3 separate regions of the Homo sapiens genome follow, and regions 1 and 2 are each reported to be linked to region 3. The links are microRNA targets in miRTarBase. Many come from high-throughput screens and were not tested one by one. Region 3 holds a microRNA gene; each other region holds the end of a gene's coding sequence.
Evidence for each region. Region 3 holds the annotated microRNA hsa-miR-1268a (CGGGCGUGGUGGUGGGGG, at 5,120-5,137, shown strand). A microRNA usually pairs through its seed, bases 2 to 8, with sites in the 3' UTR of a target mRNA and lowers its output. Matches are read on the target gene's strand: a 7mer-m8 pairs with bases 2 to 8, a 7mer-A1 pairs with bases 2 to 7 and ends in A, and an 8mer does both.

Region 1 (7,000 bases), not on the chromosome of region 3:
ATCTTCCTAATTTTTGAGCATGTATTTATGTTTTTATTTTTGTTTTTAGCTCTTCTTTTGGTTTTGTTTGTGGCTTTAAATAAACGTCAGTGTCTGCTAAACTTAACACAGGCCAAGAGGACCAGGGTGGCTCATCTTTGCAGGTAGATCCCAAAGAGAAGTGAGGGAGATAGGTTGAGCTATTCAAGCGGAATTTCTGCTTCCAGTTTTACCACTTAGATAATTCATTGGTTCCTCCTCTATGGGAGAGTAGATCAGAGACAGAATCACATGTTACAATAATTGATCTACTGGAACATGTTAAACAAAGCAGGGAGAAAAGCATTCCCCCTCCTTACCAATCATCACATGTGACTTCCATTGACAGATGTGTAAATTGAGATCAGAAAAGTCACCTACCCAATGTTACTTAGTAAAGAACAAATGTTCAATTATAGTCCAATCTATCTTTTTTGCTATTCTGATTGCACTGAGGACATCCCTGTAATTAACTGGGAATGAAAACAGTATGGTTTTCTCAGGATGATCACAAGTGGGAGGGAGAATTTATCAATATTATATTTTCATAGCTTTTTATTGTTTTTAAAATTATAATCTTTAAATTATTAAAAATTTGTCAATTTATTCATTTATATGTGAAGCAAGCTTTATTTTTGATAGTATATTTGTTTTGTGGGCTTTTAAAAGTTTTGTTTGCTTTGAAGGATTTACAGTAAGTTCTGAAATGATACACTAAAGCACTAGGAGTATATAGCATGTTGAGCTTGCATTTCTGTTTAATGTTGAAATTGAAAAAAATTTAGATTCAGAATATTATTTATCAAATAGAGAAGGCTCATTTTCTTTGGTCCAACTTTATAAATTATGTATAATATTTAAGAGCAAGGTCTGGTTTCCATTTCAGTTATTGATTTGAAATAGAGCATTTTGGCATCAGAAATGTAGACAGCAGGCATTTCCTACACTTAATGTATTCCCTCAAAACCAAGAAGCAGCTTAATGTAGACAGTTTTGTAAGATTTGTCACAGATTCTGGGTGCTTTCGAACTATCTCACATTTTATTCAGTGTAATTCACTTTTCTGTATGGTAAAATGTGGGCAAATACATTCTTTCTAACAATATCTTGGAGACCTTATGCTGTGAGCATTTAATTTGTAAAATGTGGTTTGACTTCCTTGAAAGGGATTGCTAAGTAAATGTGATGATTAATTTTATGTGTCAACTTTGACTGGGTCACAGGGTACCTAGATAGTTGGTGAAACATTATTTCTGGGTGTGGCTATGATGGTGTTTCTGGATAAGATTAGCATTTCAATTGGTAGACTGAGTTAAGCAGATTACCCTCCCCAGTGTTGTTGGGCATCATGCGATCCATTAAGGGCATGAATAGAATGAGAAGGTGGAAGAAGGTCCAGTTAACTGCCTGGCCGCTTGAGCTGAACATTGAACTTCTTCTGTCCTCAGTGCTCCTGGTTTTTAGGCCTTCAAACCCAGACTGCAACATTATTGGCTCTCTGGCTCTTAAGCTTTTGAACTACACCTCTGGCTTTCCTGGGTCTCCAACTTGCAGATGACAGATCATGGGCCTTTGCATCCTCTAAAATCATTTAAGCCAATACCTTATAATGAGTCTTTATATACTTATGTATGTGTGTGTGTATATATATATATATATATGCTTATATGTGTGTATATATGTGCTTATATATATATATATATATGTATATGTATCTGCCCCTAGTTCTATTTCTCTGGAGAGCTCTGACTATAGTATAGTAAAAGAGATACTTGACTTGACTCTGGCAAGTGAATGTCTTTTTTAACTTACTGATACTATTCATGATTCCTCTTTCTCTAAGAGATGCTCCAGAGGAAATGGTGAGCATATAACTAATTCCAACTTTAGTGATTTATTAATTTTTGTATTTATAACTTTTGGAAATAGACTGAGAAGTGATAGATACTTAAAGATGAGGATAGTTACAGGATTAATGGAAGGAGGTTCAACTTATTTATTAGTTTCAGTACTAACAGATAAATGAATAAATTTTACGCTGTAACATTTATTAAGGGCACTGAGTATATAGAGAACTTTTATAGATAACAAATTAGGGACAATAAATGGCAAGAACTGGTAGCAGCACTGGTTTGGGGACAAGTGGCCCTCAAATTTTGTTAGGTATCCTTGGCCATAGGTGAAAGGCTTACTCAAAGTAGATTGCAGATTTTTGGGGGGATGGAATCTAAGTGAAACTGTGTGTCTTAGAGTTCTCCAAAAAAGCCGAATTAATAAGGCTGAGAAGTCTCATAATCTGCTGTGCAAGTTGGAGACTGGGTGGTTAACGGTGTAATCCAATCTGAGACTGAAAGCCTGAGGAACAGGGAAGCCAATGCTGTAAATCACAGTCTGAAGGCAGAAGATGAGATGAGATGTCCCAGCTCAATCAGTGAGCTGTGTGTGTGGGAGGCAAGCCTGTGGGGTATTCAGCTGGTGCCCCGAGATAGGGTGGGTTGCAACATGTGAAAAGCTGATGTCTAGAAAAGAAAGGGATTGGAAGAGAGAAAAGAAAATGTGTGGAGAATGAAGATAAATGGCTAAATTTAAACTCCCCGAATCCCCCCTCCCTCCTTTTTTTGCAGAGATTGTTTTGCCAGATTTTTAGAAAAGAGAGATGAACACCTTTTAAACTCTGAGGAAAGAAATGGGCTCATTGGTATGGAGCAGAACAGAATACTAGGGGTAAGAAATGCTATAATCATTCCTGTTCTGAAGTCCATTTAGTAACAGCTGTGTGATTCTCTTATTCTCTTATTCTAGGGTCCCATAAATGACCTAGAAACTGCATTATATTTATTAGAACTAAAAAAAAATTCACTACAAGTAACATATAAATTTAGGAGGAGAAGGATCTGTGAAAGGTTTTATAAATATAGGATAGATATATATCCTACTTGAAAATTTTCTATCTCTTCATTTTGAATTATGTTAGTAGTATCTATGTTCCGTAACCACCTCCCACTCACTCCCAGGCCAAAACAATAAAATACCTACTGTTACCTAAAATCACCAGGTCCAAACTCTTCATTTTCCTATCAGTTTATTGTTGTACATATGAGGTACCATGCTACTATCAGAATTATATCTAGGTTTTTTATTTTAAAAAACTCAGAGAAAAAAATGTTTCCAGTAATTTTCATTCAATGTGAATGACAAGAATATTACAGCTATAAACATTGAAATAACCATTTCATTTCTTCCTGAGGAAGTTTCATATTTTAAACAATGAAAAAGGGAATTCTATACAAAGCTAGTTTTAAATCAGATTATCTCTCATTATTCTCTCATATGTATTTATGTTACTTTCAGATTAGCATATTAACCAGTTGGAGTATATAATGTGGAAAGTATGCATGTCCTCTAGAATTTGATGCTGTCTTCAAGACACATTGAGTGGTCAAAAATCCTTTCACAGGTTTGCTGCTCTAGCTAGCGTAATACATGTACTTGTGAATGAATAAATTTTGGTAAGATCTCTTCCTTTTTCTCCTGTCTTTATACAAACACGGAGTATGTTTTTGACATCTATTTAAAAGGATGAAGTGTTCAGTCAACTCGATTTACCTAAACAAAATAGGCCATTAGCAGCTTTGCTTAGCAGTTCAAATGTACATCTTACCATTAAAGCATAAATGTATCAGTTTTTCTTTTCTTTTTTTATTAGAATAAATGTTGTTGCCAAATGAAAACATGACACTGTATATAACTGCTGAGGCCTATTCTCATGTTTAACCTTCCTAAGCCAGTTTTCTTAAGTTGGTGGAGATGGAAGACTATAGTAATTTTCCTAGCATGTCTGGCATCTGCTGCTATAAAAGAGACAGCAGTAAGCATGAAGACTGTGTTTCCCATATTTGTCCAAATCACTTTGATTTTGCTTTTAGAGTCAAGAGTCTTAAAAATTGGTGATTTTTCCAATTTTTTCTGCTAATAGTATATTTAAAAATTAGCATATGCTTTAGGTACATGAAACTTTAAAAAAGTAATTATAATGTACAGTTAAAAATTTATAGTAAGTGGATCTCACAATTCATTTTCTAATTAGTAATTGATAGTTTTACCCATTAAAATGACAATGAAAATATTTTTACTATGGGTTTTCCTCCCATTTGTTTCTAATCATACCTTTGATAATATTTTATAAAGGCTTATAATCATAGCAGGGAATTAATTTACTACTTAAATTTTATGTATATGTACAGTACATTTAAAAATTAAGTAGTCAGGGCATGGTGGCTCACGCTTGTAATCTCAGCACTTTGAGAGGCCAAGGTGGGTGGATCATGAGGTCAGGAGTTCAAGATCAGCCTAGTCAACATGGTGAAACCCTGTCACTACTAAAAATACAAAAATTACCCGGGCGTGGTGGTGCATGGCTGTAATCCCAGCTCCTCAGGAGGCTGAGGCAGGAGAATCACTTGAACCCAGGAGGCGGAGGTTGCAGTGAGCTGAGATCACACCATTGCACTCCAGCCTGGGTGACATAGTGAGACTCTGTCCCCCTCTCAAAAAAAAAAATTAAGTAAATATTAACAGGAAAATAAGTATGATGTATTCTTTTCTTTTTTGGAAACTTTATTAACCATATATATTATTTACAATTGAAATGTAAATATATTTCAAGAGCATGACTTGCTCATCTTTGTACTTCCTGCATTTAATTTAGTAGCTAATCCTTAATTGTACCTATGATCTGTTACTTCCACCAGAGTGATGGGTGAAATATTTTCAAAAATGGGCCTCTGCTCTGCTTATGTTTCTTTGCCTTATATCAAAAGTATCATTGCAAACATTAGATTACAAATAATATATTAATTTGTTTTTTGTTATAAATCTCTACTACATTACATAATTTTATTTTGAACTATCTGGGAAAATGCAATTTTTTAATAACCTAAATGTAAATAGCCTAACCACATCATCTAGGGAAACTGTTTTTAGTTTTAGTTTAATAGGTTTTGTTTTGGGGAGCATTAAAAATAGCTATTCACATTTAAAAGTCAACCTGTTTCTGGAGATGACACATACCTCAGACTCTAGGCATGCATTTCTGTAGAACTAGTGAGGACTACTGGGATAGATTCACAGCTTACAGCAAGTGGACATAGAATTCTCGATGATATGTTTTTAGACCCCTACAATTTCTCCCTTTTAGAGGATTCAGTCAGTACACTTTACATTGTTATTTACTGTTTTGGTGTACTTGATGTGTTTCTATTTACCATCCAACAGCTTTACAGTATATATTTCAGTATAACAATTACGTTGTGATGGAAGAGTTAGTAATTTTTACATATATTCACTAGACTATGTATATGAAAAAATCACTTTTGCTATAGCACTTATTTTTTTTTGGTGCAGATAACACTCATATATAACTTTTCCACTCTGATCTAGCACAAATTATAATTTACAATTATTTCTAAATACTTAAGTGGATTTAAATTTTGGCAAGCATTTTTCATGGGTGTTATGCTTTTGACATTTTATGCTACATTGTGATGTTTATTTTGCTTCTTGTTTCATAGGACACTTTATAGAATAAAATAATAAGAAAACATCGTACAGGCAAACAGTGGTCTAAAAACCTACAGAGACACAATCTTAGTTGATATATAAAAGTGTAAATATTACTATGAAATGGAACAGTTCTGCATTTGTGTTTGATATTTATGTTGGTTGCAATTGACTTCCACATGAGTGCACAGTAGTCTACAATAATCCCACAGGCTCAGATATGGGTTAAGAGAAAGGCCACAGGCCTCAAGGCTTGTAACACATACTTTTTCTTTTTTTCTAATCATCCACGTGCCAGCACATGGAAGAAACTGTTCTTTTTTCTCATTTGAAGAGGTATATTTTTCAACTGCCTTTTGGTAGCTTCTGGAAGCTTTGGAAAAGGTGTGTTCTACATGGACGATGAAGTCTCAAGTTTTCTCTCAGTGCTATCTTACTTTCTGCAGCTCCTGTCTCAGCCAGGATGGCAGAGGCTGACCCAGTTTGTGCAGCAGCTTTGAGAGTTCCACGTTGTGATCTCGATAGTAGCTTGACAGAAATGTCCTGCTCTAAGTGGAGAGGAGGAGAGAAAAGTACATTTTATTTTGTTTATTACATTTCATACACTTTGACTACGTTGAAATAAGTACCAAGTATACCAGATCTGGATTAAAATTTGTATTAAGCATATGGACTATTTATTTAGCACATGCTATGATATTTTACTGACAGTCTTGGGTACTGGCATTTTTCTTACTAGGAAGAGGCAAAAGGTGTGGTGACAGTACTGCCCACTCTAATCCCTCCTACACATTTGTATTTTCATTACCTCTGTGAAGACCTCTTTACTCTTACCTGCTTTGTGGACATTATTTTCACAAAATCAGCCACTCCCTTAAATAAACCCAATATGGATTACTCAGTAACCTTGTTGAGAAGGAAGGATATCCTGAAAAGTTGTGTTTTTCTTATCTTTCTCTACCTCCAAATTTAATAAGGTCTGTGTTAGACCAGAGTAAAACAAAATGCTAAGAAAGATATTCTGCAGTGTCTCTTAAACATTTTAGCTTTAATAAATTTACGGGGAAATAGCTTTGACATAAATGCATATGATATATTTTATATTACTTTCTTGAAATACTATAGAAATTGTATGTCAATTTCTTTTGGGAAAAGAAGGGTTGTTTTCAAAGTGCTCTGAAGGTATATTTTAATCAGCCACAGAAAATTGGAGTTCTGAAAATGCAGTTTGTTTATCAAAATAACAGAAACTCTCTCTCTCTTCCGTATATGATTTAATTATGAGTTTATTGAGGACAGACCCTGCATCTATCAGGCAAGGCACAAAAAGTAGTCCTCAAGGTTTTGTTAAAGTATTCTAATAAGTTTAGCCCACCTTAGGATCCTCAGACCATCTTAGGGTTCTCAGTTAATGTAATGTATT
Region 2 (7,000 bases), not on the chromosome of region 3:
GCCCAGCTAATTTTTGTATTTTTTTTAGTAGAGACAGGGTTTTGCCATGTTGGCCAGGCTGGTCTCGAACTCCTGACCTCAGGTAATCCACCCACCTCTGCCTCCCACAGTGCTGGGATTCCAGGAATGAGCCACTGAACCCAGCTAATTTTTGTATTTTTAATGGAGACGGGGTTTCACCATGTTGGCCAGACTGGTCTCGAACTCCTGACCTCAAGTGATCCATCTGCTTCTGCCTCCCGCAGTACTGGGATTCCAGGCATGAGCCACGGTGCCCAGCCCCTGTCTCACTTTAAGCAGGGCCCTACTGACTTCCCAGGGAGTGCAGTTTGGGAAGTGCTGGCTCGGGGTCACACCAGACATCAGGGTGCTGCTCCCACACCCCCTACCTCCCAGAGTGCCCAGCTGAAACCCTGACCCCACAATCTTTCTCTGTCTTCTGGGTACCAGCAGCCCAGATGCGCCCAGCCTGTGAACAGATCTACAACCTCTTCCACGCGGCTGACCCCTGCGCCTCACGCCTCGAGCCCCTGCTGGCCCCGAAGTTCCAGGCCATCGCCCCACTGACCGTGCCCCGCTACCAGAAGTTCCCCCTGGGAGATGGCTCATCCCTGCTGCTGGGTACGCCCCCAAACAAGATAAAGGGGAGAAGGAGGAGGGCACACACAGGAAGGGAGGAGGTAGCAGAAGACATGAGGAGGCTCCCAGACGATGGAAAACCTCTCAGGCCACCACTCCCAGGACCAGGCGCTCCTTCCCCCTGGGGGGGTCTGGATCCCCAGGACCCTCTGACCTCCTGGGCCTAGAAGTTGGGTGGGGGTGGTTAGCCAAGCTAGAGAGGGTGCCCCCTGGCAGCATGATGCTGGTGTGCTGCCATACAAGCAGCCAGCATGTGTGCGCTGCTGCATCTGTGTGGGGTGTGCTGCAGACATTTATTGCGGGGCATGCCCAGGTATGTATGGGCCAAGCGGGCCTGTGTTGGGCACAGGTGTGCAGCGTTTGGGGCGGTGGCAACAGGCATTCTGGCAGGAGTGCAGCTGGCCACTGGGCTGAGAGGAGAGAATGCCACAGTGCAGCCTCAGCCAGGACCTGACCAGAGGGGCCACAGGAAGATGGCAGAGGTGCGGGGAGCCCTGGGTGAGAAGACAGGAGAGCCACCTGGCCGGCCCCTGCTGACCTTGCCCTCCTTCCCCCAGCCGACACTCTGCAGACGCACTCCAGCCTCTTTCTGGAGGAGCTGGAGATGCTGGTGCCCTCAACACCCACCTCTACTAGCGGTGCCTTCTGGAAGGGCAGTGAGTTGGCCACTGACCCCCCGGCCCAGCCAGCCGCCCCCAGCACCACCAGTGAGGTGGTTAAGAGTAAGTCAGCCAGCCTAGGCAGTCCAGCCTGGGGGTGGGGGAGGCCCGTATTCCACCTCCGAAGCCCAGCTGAGAAACCCTTTCCCCCAGCACACAGCCTGGACTTGGCAAAGAGCAGGCTGGGTGAAAAGGGGGGAGGGAAGAGCACCCAGCGCCCAGGCAGATGGGTGTGGGGCAGGAGGCCATCCTGACTCGCTGCCATGGCCGCGCAGTCCTGGAGCGCTGGTGGGGGACCAAGCGGATCGACTACTCGCTGTACTGCCCCGAGGCGCTCACCGCCTTTCCCACCGTCACGCTGCCCCACCTCTTCCACGCCAGCTACTGGGAGTCCGCCGACGTGGTGGCGTTCATCCTGCGCCAGGTGGGCCTGGGAATATGGAATGGGAGATGAGAATGGGACGGGGATGGGCTGCTTTGGGCCGGGGGAGGGGCAGCCCTCCCTCCCCTAAGAGACAGAGGCCTCGCCCCCTGTCCCGTGCAGGTGATCGAGAAGGAGCGGCCACAGCTGGCGGAATGCGAGGAGCCGTCCATCTACAGCCCGGCCTTCCCCAGGGAGAAGTGGCAGCGAAAACGCACGCAGGTCAAGATCCGGGTAGGTGCCCTGCCCCTCGCCCCCTCGCCCACTCGCCCACTCTCGCCCACTCACCAGAGAGGCCCCGCCCCTCCCCCCAGCACCCCCCTCCTCGGGTCCTAGCCGATCCAACTCTCTCCCAGTCCTGCCCCGCCCCTGGGGTCCTGGCCCCACCTCATTGCCCCAGCCCCGCCCCTGGGAACCGCTGGTCTCCCCGCCCTCTGCGGGAAGTTTGGGTCTAGGGTCTGGATCTGCGCTGGTCCCCACCTCGCCTCATCCTCTGCATCCCGTCCTGTCACAGCTCTGCCCCTGGAGGCGCGGCCCACACACAGGCTCTCAGGCCGGGGTCCACAAAAGTGCGCCCCCCGGGCTTGCCCTTTTCCCTCAATGCCCCGCCGCCTCTAGGCCCCCACCCCGGTGTTTGCGTGTGGATCCTCACCCGCTCCCCCTCCCCAAGCATCCCCATCCTTTGCTGGCCGCGGACTCACGCCCTCTCCTCCCTCTAGAACGTCACTTCCAACCACCGGGCGAGCGACACGGTGGTGTGCGAGGGCCGCCCCCAGGTGCTAAGCGGGCGCTTCATGTACGGGCCCCTGGACGTCGTCACGCTCACTGGAGAGAAGGTCAGGACCCAGAGGCCCTGTCGCCTGGTCCCATGGCCCCATCTCCTGTCCTCGGAACAGCTCCTGGTCCCTGGTGGTTGTGCCCCTAGACCCACCCATCCCCGACGACAGCCCCGCCTCTGCCCACCTCCACGCAGGGCCCCCATTTACCTCCCGCCCCTTCTCCCCTCCAGGTGGATGTCTACATCATGACGCAGCCGCTGTCGGGCAAGTGGATCCACTTTGGCACCGAAGTCACCAATAGCTCGGGCCGCCTCACCTTCCCAGTTCCCCCAGAACGCGCGCTGGGCATTGGTGTCTACCCCGTGCGCATGGTGGTCAGGTGAGCGCGGCTGGCCGGGCCTCTGCGGGAGGGCTCCGCCAGGCCTCGCCCCGCGCCACTCACGCCCCGCCCCGTGGGCCGCAGGGGCGACCACACCTATGCCGAATGCTGCCTGACTGTGGTGGCCCGCGGCACGGAGGCTGTGGTCTTCAGCATCGACGGCTCCTTCACCGCCAGCGTCTCCATCATGGGCAGCGACCCCAAGGTGCGAGCTGGCGCCGTGGACGTGGTCAGGTAGGAGTTGCCACTGCCACCACCACCCATTTCACCGGGGTGACCGGCCCCTCACCCCTGGCCAGCGGAGCTGACCGCTGCCCCCGCCCCACAGGCACTGGCAGGACTCCGGCTACCTGATCGTGTATGTCACAGGCCGGCCGGATATGCAGAAGCACCGCGTGGTGGCATGGCTGTCGCAGCACAACTTCCCCCACGGCGTCGTCTCCTTCTGCGACGGCCTCACCCACGACCCACTACGCCAGAAGGCAATGTTTCTGCAGAGCCTGGTGCAGGAGGTGCGGCGGCTGGGGGAGGCTCCGGGTCCTGACCCCGCCCCCGCTCCCCCTTACCCTCCACCCCCGGATCGGCGGAGGCCCATCTGTTCCCAACTGGATCGGCCCGGGCCCTGCCTGACTGCAGCGGCCCGCTACGGTCCTGCTCCCCTAGTTTGAGGGGCCCCGTGTACTTAGGGGCAACTAGGGAGATGCAGCTGGTCCCGCCCCTGTCCCCGTGGGACTGGGACCTGTCTTCGCCTCCGTCTGCCTGGACCCACCCCCAGAACAATCTGGGGAAGCCCAACAGGCCCCGCCCCCAGCTGCACGGCTCCACCCCTGGGGCGGCTGATTGGCATCTCCCGCCACAGGTAGAACTGAACATCGTGGCCGGTTATGGGTCTCCCAAAGATGTGGCTGTATACGCGGCGCTGGGGCTGTCCCCGAGCCAGACCTACATCGTGGGCCGTGCCGTGCGGAAGCTACAGGCGCAGTGCCAGGTGAGGCCCAAGTGAAGGCCAGGAACAGGACCCCACCAGGGGGCAGGGCCCTCAGTCCCAGGCCTTGGGAACCACGGACTCTGGGGAAGATGTGAGAAGGCCTAACCGGCCTCCAGGGAACCTGGGATCCTCCGAGGACAAGGGCCATGAGCAGCTTGAGCTGCCAGCTGCCAGGCAAGCCAGAGGGGACAGCCCACACTGGAAAGTGCTCAAGACCCTAGGCGCTGGTTCCACTCGGCCATGGCTTTCCACTGTGACCTTTCTGAGCCTCAGCTTCCCATCTGTAAATGGAAATGATCATGGCACTGCCCATGTCAGCTTATGAAGATCACATCAACAGGCACAGGGCTGGGCACAAAGCAAGTGCTGGCTAAACATTGGCTGCTGTTATTTTTCCTCTAAGACCCCATTTTCCAGATGAGGAGACTGAGGCCCAGAGAAGGGCAGAGCTAGGAGCACAGCCAAGGTGCCCTGGCTCCCAGCCTGGGGTCCTATCTATTGAGAAGGCTTCAGCTCAGGCTGTGCCAAGCCTGCCACCAGTCCCCCAGCCTGCCTCAGGTGCCTCTGGAGGACCGTGGAGGGCAGCGTGTGGGCCCTTGGCCAGCACCCCCTCATCGCTGCCTACCTCTGCCCACAGTTCCTGTCAGACGGCTATGTGGCCCACCTGGGCCAGCTGGAAGCGGGCTCGCACTCGCATGCCTCCTCGGGACCCCCGAGAGCTGCCTTGGGCAAGAGCAGCTATGGTGTGGCTGCCCCCGTGGACTTCCTGCGCAAACAGAGCCAGCTGCTTCGCTCGAGGGGCCCCAGCCAGGCGGAGCGTGAGGGCCCGGGAACACCACCCACCACCCTGGCACGGGGCAAAGCACGGAGCATCAGCCTGAAGCTGGACAGCGAGGAGTGAGGCCCACACCAGCCTGGACCTGGGTTATTTATTGACACACCCAAGGGGCCCGAGGGGCTGCGTGTGGGAGGCTGGGGACCCAGACTTTTGGCCCCAGCGCTGGCCCCCCCAGCCCCACACCCTATATCTCCGTGTGCTCCTCGGTGTTACTTCCCTTTCATATGAGGGGACCCAGCGCCGGGGGGAGGGAGGAGGGCGTGGGCATGGGCGCAGAGGCTTTTCCAGTGTGTATAAATCCATGAAAATAAACGCCACCTGCACCCCACCCACTCACCCCATGCCTGGCATCACAGGGCAGCCAGCCCAGTTTCCAGTTCAACAGGGGACACTGATGTGCACAGAGAGGCCAACACACACCCAGGGCCATCCAGCTCACAGGCAGGGTCAGGATGGGGGCCTGGGCCTCAAAAGGTCGCACGAAACCCACGCCCAGGGCCATCCATGTCACAGGCAGGTCAGGATGGGGGCCTGGGCCTCAAAAGGTCTCACGAAGCGCTCGGCCCTCTCCTCTTTCTGGACAGTCAGCCCACCCCAGCCCAACCCGGCTCACCTCAGCCCCAGCGTAGCTTCTCATGGAAACCCTGCCCCCAGACACCGAGGCCAGGAGACCATGGGATCCGAGGCTGGAGTGGGAGGGCAGCACCAGGAGACTACCTCCCTCAGGTGCCCAGCTACCTAGCTTGTACCCACTTCATCTCCCCCTTAAGACTGTGGGCTCCTGGGGCGCCCCAGCCCTGGCCAGCGAGAGACACTTCCTTGGTGAAAGAGCTCATCGTAATTTCTCTAACAGGGACACCAGAGCCTCAGAGCTGGTGGGTGGAGGGGCTAGGATTTGAACCCTGATTCTTTGCCTCCCAACAGCCACCCAAGTACCAGGAATGCCAGGTGATGACCCGGCTCTCCCAGTGGAGCAGCTCAGCAGACTCAGAGAGAGATAAATAAAGGCCTTTATATACACAGAAGCATGACGCAGCACGGGCAGGGGGGCTGGCAGCTGCAGCAGTGGGCTTGGCAGGTAAGGCAGGGCCAAGTGCTCCTGTCAATGGGAGAAGATCCCCCGGAACCGGGCTTTGTCCTCTTCGTCCTTCTGCCGGATCCGTGCCTCCAGGGCCCGCAGCTCTCGGCTCACCACAGGCGCCAGGGCTGGGTCCAGCTCCAGCACTTTGGCAAAGTCAGCCTGGGCCTCCTGGGCATTCCACACGGCCGCGTGGGCCTTGCCCCGCTTGAAGTAGGCCTTGACGTTGTCTGCAGGGGAGGCCAGTGGGCAGTGGGCATGCAAGGGCATGAGGGGGGATCCTGGCCAGCTGCCTGCCCTCATGTCTCCTGGCACCATGGGCCCACAGGGGAGAGAGAGCCCTCCCTGACCTGAGGATGCCACCCCACCCCCAATACACCATTCATGCTTCATTGGCACAATGGGGCCCACAGCCCTGCCGAGTAGAGGCATTTAGTCAGGCCCCCGTGGGAGCTCAGAATGGGGGTTGTGAAAGGCTAGGTCTTGACCCCAGCAGTGACAGGAGAAAGGCCACTCTCTGACCACTCGCAGCCCCCGGCAGCCCAGGGCCCGGTGCTCACCGTCGTACTTGTTGAGGATGGAAGAGCAGTGGTCCAGCACCTCGTAGTACTCCTCGACCACCAGCTTGCACTGGCAGTAGTTGAGCAGCAGCGGCGTGATCTGCTGGTCCAGCTGGATCCATTCAGGGGACCCAGGCTGTTCCTGGGAGTATGGGGGCAGGGAGCGGGGAGAAGCTGTAGACCTGGGCCCCCTGGCTCCACACCCCCCTCCATCCATCCTCCCCCTCAGCCTCCAGGCAGTACCTTCATCTGCAGGTTCTTGAGGCAGGCAATGGCATCGTAGTACTTGGCAGCAGCCTCCTTCACATGCCCCTCGCGGTACAACCGGTTGCCCTCCTGGTGGATAAGTGGCACTGCCTTTGCCTTCTCTTCGTCTGTCATGGCCCATGGGTCCTGCTGGTACGTGCCAGGGCTCTCCACCTGCAGGGCATGGGGCATATCACAGCGGGGCTCGGGGACACCACAGCTGCGTCCGTCAGCAGCAGACCTGACCCACATCTGGGCTGGCTGGGCCCCCAGACATCACACACCAGCAGCAGAGCTACTTGTCACTCAAAAAGCATCAAACATCGATGTCACATCTCCTGTGTGCCCAGCACTGTGCCAAGTGCTAAGAATAGAACAGTGAACAAGACGGTGAAAAGCCCTGCCCTCGCAGA
Region 3 (7,264 bases):
TGGACCCATGTTTTACAAGAGGGTTTTTCATTTACCAGGGCCTGGTGGGACAGTGAAAAGCAGAGGGATTGGGGGAGTTCTTCATCTGGGGGACTGTCCCACTTGTTGTACCCCTGAAAACTTCCAGAAGGCCCCCGGGGGTAGCACAGCCTCTGTAGAGGACGACTGATCTCTGCTGTTGGTCACTTTTTAAGGTCAGCAAAATGAGGCCTAACGAATGCCACACAGCCGAGTCATAACAGAGCTGAGTGTCCTGGAGGGATGTGGCGGACGGGCCTGGGACGCCCTCAGCACAGGGCTCTTCCCTTCCAGCTCCAGTCCTTCGTTCCTGCTGAGGGAGGGCAGAGGCTAGGAGACATGGAAGCTTCCAGCCTATGTGGCCTTCTGAGCTGCCATGCCACTGAACTAGCATCCTGGAAAGAGAAAATCCCATGCAACCTGGATGTTGCTTTACTACAGTGAAGAGTTTAGAGCAATACTTTGGAATCAGACAGGCCTGGGCCCAAGTCCTGGCTCTCCCATAGACTGGCTGTGGGCTCATGGGCAAGTTCCTTAATTTCTCTTTGAGCCTCAGTTTTCTTCACTGTAAAATGGGGTTAATAGCATTCCCCAATTCCAGGGGAGTTGAGAGTACTTAGTGCAAAAGATGCATGTAAAATGCCTCCTTTACTTTTTTTTTTTTTTTTTTTTGAGACTGAGTTTCACCCTTGTCGCCCAGGCAGGAGTGCAATGGTGTAATCTTGGCTCACTGTAACCTCCACCTCCCAGGTCCAAGCAATTCTCCTGCCTCAGCCTCCTGAGTAGCTGGGACTACAGGCGTGCACCACCACACCCGGCTAATTTTGTATTTTTAGTAGACATGGGGTTTCTCCATGTTGGCCAGGCTGGTCTCAAACTCCTGACCTCAGGTGATCCTCCGCCTCAGCCTCCCAAAGTGCTGGGATTACAGGTGTGAGCCGTTATGCCTGGCCTCGCCTCCTTTACTTTTTACCTGGTAGCATGGGAAGCTGCCTGCAGTGAACTTGAGAAAGTGACACAAGAGCCTCAGCCTGGGAGGCTGGAGCAAGGAAAATCCCTTTTCGAGGAATCCTCCACCGCCTGGTTTGTTTTATAATTTCAGGGGCACTATGCACACTGACACATTGTGCACACCTCCATCTAGTTCTAGAAAATTTCCATCACCCCACAAAGATACCCCATATCTGTTGTCAGTCACTCCTCATTCCCTCATCCCTCTGGCCCCTGACAGCCACCCATCCACTTTCTGTCCCTGTAGACTGGCCACACTGGGCCTCTCATGTAAATGGAATGAATCGTGTAATACGTGGTCCCTTGTGTCCGACTTCTGTCACTCAGCATCATGTTCAAGGTTCATCGCGTTGTAGGGTGTGTCAGAGCCTCGTTCCTCTCTATGGCTGATGGTATGAGTTGTATGGATGGACCGCGTTTCGTTTATCCACTCCTCAGCGATGGACATTTGCTTTTTCCTACTTTTCGGTGACTGTGAGTCATGCTCCACTTTGAACATCCTGGCCCCTGGCATGTCATCAGGGTGGAATGAGAGTGAGCTGGGTCTCTTCTGAATCTAGGCCTTTGTTTTGGGTGAAAGGACACAGCCTTTGGAAGAAGACAGACCTGGGTTTGGATTCTGATTCCATACAAGTCACCAGGTGCCTCAACCTCTCTGAATCCCAGTTTCTTCATCAGACAAAGGGATAGTTATGAGGCATCGACATGACATTTGTGTGTGATCAGCACATCGTAGGGATCCAACAAATGGTCTCATTTGTGTCCAGCCAGCTCCTTCAATGCCTTAATTATTGCACTGCAGCCTGGGTAGGGCATCCCTTCTCCCAGCTCTAAGGTATGGATTCCCATGGGTTCTAGTCAGGGGTACACTGTGGCCAGTTCGTAGGGCTCACGAGAGCCGATGGTGAGCGTCTCTTCCCTACTCCACACTCAGGGACTTTGCATTGGTACCTTGAAATCAACCAAAGTGGGAGTGTTTATACCCTGGAAATCAGCAAACCTTCAAAGTGGGGCTTACCCCAACCCCTGACCTCTGGAGAGCCAGTTGTTAAACATTTACCAACAACCACAGGTTCTAGTATTTTCTGTTAAGCTGGCCTGGTGGCAACAGGCCAGAGAGTTCAGGAGAGAGTAAGGCAGGACAGCTCAGGGGTTAAGCCCGAGGATGCTGGAGCAGACATGTGATCTTGGTCCTGGCCGGCAGGCCTGCCAGTGCTGCAGAATCTGTGAGCTCCACGTCCTCACTGTCTCCATCTCCTTTGGCACTCAGCTGCAACAGCAGGACCTGGAGGCAGGTCTGCTGCATGGGACATGGGGTGTGGGGACTTCTGGGGAAAGCATTCCTTTCCAGTAAAAGTGATGCAAAGGAGGAGATGCCTCCTCTTCTTGGATGTTTTCATGTCCATACAGTGACTCCTGGAGCTGCAGCAGCCATCATGTGACCTTTCCAGAAGGGTGTGGACTGGAGACAGTGGGAGAAGCAGGGCCCCAGGTCCTTCCTCAATGCCACCATCCTCCACCCTGGACTCAGGCTTATGCTTTCTTTTTCCTCTTTCCTGTTGAATTTGACCACTGGCATTTCACTAAAACAAAGGCAAATCTCCAACCCACATGTCACAGCCAGGAAGGAGGCCTGACACCCCCAGGCCCTCAGGACTCAGCACTGGATGCACAACTTTCAGGGAGCGCAGGAAGCTCGGGGAGCAGAAGCCACTCTCAGGGGCTCCTGAGCCAGGGGACAGAGCAACAAGGACAGCACTTCCCACCCCAGCATGCCGCTCCAGCCTCTACACTGTGACCACAGGGCTTTCAGGTGGGGCAAAGGGCTCTGCCCGGCAGGCAGCGTGACGCCCATGCTGCCAGACTGAGGCCCTGAGTCCGGTCCTGATGCCAACAGTTGAGGATCCTGGGGCCAGCCCCTGTCTTTGCCATCCTCTGGCCCTGCACTCTCATACCTGTAAGCTCAGCACTTTGGGAGTCCAAGGTGGGCAGATCATGAGGTCAAGAGATCGAGACTAGCCTGGCTAACATGGCAAGACCCCGTCTCTACTAAAAATACAAAAATTAGCTGGGTGTGGTGGTGGGCACCTGTAGTCCCAGCTACTCGGGAGGCTGAGGCAGGAGAATCGCTTGAACCTGGGAGGCAGAGGTTGCAGTAAGCCGAGATCGTGCCACTACACTCCAGCCTGGTGACAGAGTGAGACTCTGTCTATAAATCAGTCAATCAATTAATCAATCACTGGTCCACGTGCCTTCACCCACACCCTCTCCCAGTCTGAGGTCCAAGAGTCTGGGGTTCAGGCTCCTTCCTGCATGGACAGATCCATCCCTGATGGCACCCTCTAGAGACAAAGGCAAGAAGGCCATGGGCAGAGATGTGGCATGTCGTGGCTGCACTCAGAAGAGGAAGAAAAGACCACCAGATATTTTAGCTGCTGTATTTTAAACATCAGGACACGGAGGCTGAAAATAGATAATGATTGTGGAAAGCCAAACAGCTGACATGTTTATCCATCTCATTCATCACTCCTTCTTCCCTCAGCAATTGGTCTTGGGCAGCCCCTGCTTCTGATAACCCCTGACATTCACTCTGCCCTGGGTCTCTGAGGTCTTCTAGAACCCAGGACTCCACCAACCTCCCAGAGCCTAGGTGAAAATCTGTGCAGGGGAGGGGGGCCTATGGGGAACCCAGGGTGTCAGGAGGTGAGGGGAGACAAGAATGGGGTGAAGCAGCCTCATGAAGCAAGGAGAGCCTCAGACGCACCCCCCAGCACAGACATCTGTGAGATGTCTGCCTTGGGGGCCTTGATGGGATCCAGCGGTTCTGAGTCCAGCCTCAGGAGCCCCTGCGGTGGAGCTCTGAGTGGGGCAGGGGCCTGGGAGATGCCAGAAGGATGAGAGCAGGGCCCCCCTGGTCCAGGGGACAGTAAGAGGTAGCCAGTCCCAGAGAAGCGCCCCCACAAACTGTTACCCGTGGTGTGCAAAGCGTCCTGCAACCCCAGCCCTCACCAGGACTTCTTGCATTTTTCAGGAAAGCAGTTGTGATTGGCATGGTTCTTAAGCGTCTGCAGGAAGCTGTGGCCTTTTTGGTATTTCAGGAGGGGTTGCTAACCCCCCTCATTGTAGGATTGGGGTATCCCAGCTGCTAATTCCCCTCCTAACAGCCCTGCAGTGCCTGGATTGGAGGTGTGACAGGTGGCATTTTCGGCCCGAAGTCCCTAGGAAGGAGAGGTGGCTGTAGCCTGCGCATTTGTGTAAATTAACCACCCCTTTTAGTTCTGTGAAAGGAGAACTCGATTAGTTTAAAATCACCTGCGTGAAAGAGGGTCTTGATTAGTTTAAAATCACCTGTGTGAAAGGGTCACTTGATTAGTTTAAAATCACCTGTGTGAAAGAGGCTCTTGATTAATTTAAAATCACCTGTGTGAAAGGGTCACTCGGGTAGTTTAAAATCACCCACGTGAAAGGGGCCCTTGATTAGCTTAAAATCACCTGGGTGTTTCATTTTATCTCAGTTGACCTCTGAATCTTTATCCTACAGCTTCTTGCAAGCTCCAGTCTACCTTCTAAAGGAATAATGGGGCTCACCTTTCTATGTTACTTTATGTGGGAGTAGTTGTAAAACAGAATAAGGGAGACTGCGGGGATTGTGCAGAAATGTAGCACCCGTTTACGTGTTGGGAGGCTGAGGTGGGAGGATCGCTTGAGCCCAGGAGTTTGACACCAGCATGGGCAACTTGGTAAGATCCCTTCTCTACCCCCCAAAAAAAAAAATTTAGCTGGGCATGGTGGTGGGTGCCTGTGGTCCCAGCTACTCAGGACGCTGAGGTGGGAGGATTGCTTGAGCCCAGGAGTTTGACACTAGCATGGGCAACATGGTAAGACCCCATATCTACAAAAAAAGAAAAGAAAAAGATAAAAAAAGAAAAATTAGTCCAGCGTGGTGGTGGGTGCCTGTGGTCCCAGCTACTTGGGAGGCTGAGGTGGGAGGATTGCTGGAGCCCAGGAGTTTGACACCAGCATGGGCAACATGGTGTAAGAACCTGTATCTACAAAAAAAAAAAAAAAAAAAGAAGAAAGAAAAGTTAGCCGGGCGTGGTGGTGGGGGCCTGTGGTCCCAGCTACTTTGGAGGCTGAGGTGGAAGGATCACCTGAGCCCAGGAGGTGGAGGCTGCAGTAAGCTTAGATTGCAGCACTGCGGTCCAGCCTGGGTGACAGAGTGAGACCCCATCTCAAACCAGAAGCACCAAAAGGTGTCTGAGGTCAGGCACGGTGGCTCACGCCTGTAATTCCAGCACTTTGGGAGGCTGAGGTGGGTGGATCACCTGAGGTCAGGAGTTCGAAACCAGCCTGGCCAACATGGAGAAACACCGACTCTACTAAATATGCAAAAATTAGCTGGGTGTGGTGGCACACACCTGTAGTCCTAGCTACTGCAGAGGCTGAGGTAGGAGAATCGCTTGAACCTGGGAGGTGGAGGTTGCAGTGAGCTGAGATTGCACCACTGCACTCCAGCATGGGTGACAGAGTGAGACCTTGACGGGGGCGGGGTGGGGGTGGGATGGACCTTCTGGGGATGGACCTAAGATGGTGGTAGGAGCCTCTACAAGTGGAATTGTGATGTGCACAGCCTGGGTAAATGGGGTTGGCTATATTTAGACTTTAGTGGGGACATAGCCTATTATTTTTTAACACCATTGAACTCAGAATCGGGACCCAGATTTGCCAGGACAGCGCGGGACAGAGACCTCTCCTGGGCTCTGTGTCCCCTGTTAATAGACTGAGAGACAGAATGAGAGCTTCGAAGATGCTGTGGGAGGAGTGCTGGACGTCTCCAGGTGGTGAGCTCAGGAACGTGTGTGTGTGAGTGTAGCCATCAATCCTGGGCTCTGTCTGCCCTGTTAACAGACTGAGAGATGGAATGAGAGCATCCCCAGGTGGTGAGCTCAGGAAGGTGTGTGTGTGTGTGTGTGTGTGTGTGTGTGTGTAGCCATCAATCCTGGGCTCCGTCTGCCCTGTTAATAGACTGAGAGATGGAATGAGAGCGTCCCCAGGTGGTGAACTCAGAGACGTGTGTGTGTGTGTCTGTGTGTGCATGTGTGTAGCCGTCAGTCTCCCGGGCTCCGTCTTCCCTGTTAATAGACTGAGAGACACAATGAAGGCATCCCCAGGTGGTGAGCTCAGGGACGTGTGTGTGTGTGTGTGTGTGTGTGTGTGTGTGTGGCCACCAATCTCCTGGGCTCTGTCTGCCCTGTTAATAGAGATGGAATGAGTGCATCCCCAGGTGGTGAGCTCAGGGACACGTGTGTGTGTGTGTGTAGCCGTCAATCTCCTGGGCTCTGTCTGCCGTTAATATACTGAGAGACGGAATGAGAGCATCCCCAGGTGGTGAACTCAGGGACGTGTGTGTGCTTGTGTGTGTGTGTGTGTAGCTGTCTCCTGGGCTCCTGGGCTCCATCTCCCCTGTTAATAGACTGAGAGACAGAATGAGGGCGTCCCCAGGTGGTGAACTCAGGGACGTGTGTGTGTGTGTGTGTGTGTGTGTGTGTGTGTGTGTGTGGCCACCAATCTCCTGGGCTCTGTCTGCCCTGTTAATAGAGATGGAATGAGTGCATCCCCAGGTGGTGAGCTCAGGGACACGTGTGTGTGTGTGTGTAGCCGTCAATCTCCTGGGCTCTGTCTGCCGTTAATATACTGAGAGACGGAATGAGAGCATCCCCAGGTGGTGAACTCAGGGACGTGTGTGTGCTTGTGTGTGTGTGTGTGTAGCTGTCTCCTGGGCTCCTGGGCTCCATCTCCCCTGTTAATAGACTGAGAGACAGAATGAGGGCGTCCCCAGGTAGTGAGCTTAGGGACATGTGTGTAGCCATCATTATCCTTTAGTACCTGGTCCCCGTGCCCTCCGAGCCATCCAAGGGCTTCAGGAGGCCGAGCAGAAGGAGGGTTGGTAAGTGAGTCCACGGACCACCACGCAGGCCCTGGGGTCCTTTGGAGGGTGAGCCCTGCGGGTGGGGGGATGATGGCCCCGGAGGGTGTGCTCTGGGATGAGAGGGGACGTGCAGGTCGGGGGATGAAGGCTGCATTGCGGACAGAGCAGGCTCGGGACCTGGGCGCCACCTGGTGTCGACTCAGCTCACTCCTGAGCTATGCCTCTTCCTTGTCTTATAGTGGGGATAAAAAGCCATAGATGGCCGAGCGCAGTGGCTCAGGCCTGTAATCCCAGCACTGTGGGATG

Region 1: the mRNA of NDST3 is a reported target of hsa-miR-1268a. Seed matches in the 3' UTR shown: 7mer-m8 at 4,419-4,425.
Region 2: the mRNA of AIP is a reported target of hsa-miR-1268a. The part of its 3' UTR that is shown has no 7-base or 8-base seed match.

What each region holds. Positions count from the first base shown.
Region 1 is chr4:118,254,718-118,261,717 of GRCh38, reverse strand. It overlaps NDST3 (N-deacetylase and N-sulfotransferase 3), which reads right to left. Exons shown (of 14, transcript NM_004784.3): 14 at 3,084-6,125. The coding sequence ends at 6,006. LOC105377392 (a long non-coding RNA gene) reads left to right here. Exons shown (of 3, transcript XR_939113.3): 2 at 2,643-2,742. Among named protein-coding and RNA genes, the nearest start is that of SNHG8, 21 kb to the left of the region's middle.
Region 2 is chr11:67,489,799-67,496,798 of GRCh38, reverse strand. It overlaps AIP (AHR interacting HSP90 co-chaperone), which reads right to left. Exons shown (of 6, transcript NM_003977.4): 4 at 6,585-6,761; 5 at 6,342-6,483; 6 at 5,696-6,011. The coding sequence ends at 5,806. It overlaps PITPNM1 (phosphatidylinositol transfer protein membrane associated 1), which reads left to right. Exons shown (of 24, transcript NM_004910.3): 15 at 451-621; 16 at 1,197-1,361; 17 at 1,574-1,722; 18 at 1,843-1,953; 19 at 2,439-2,555; 20 at 2,729-2,877; 21 at 2,962-3,111; 22 at 3,206-3,389; 23 at 3,737-3,865; 24 at 4,503-5,031. The coding sequence ends at 4,766. MIR6752 (microRNA 6752) reads right to left here and starts at 6,554; the gene lies at 6,484-6,554.
Region 3 is chr15:22,223,181-22,230,444 of GRCh38, reverse strand. MIR1268A (microRNA 1268a) reads left to right here and starts at 5,116; the gene lies at 5,116-5,167.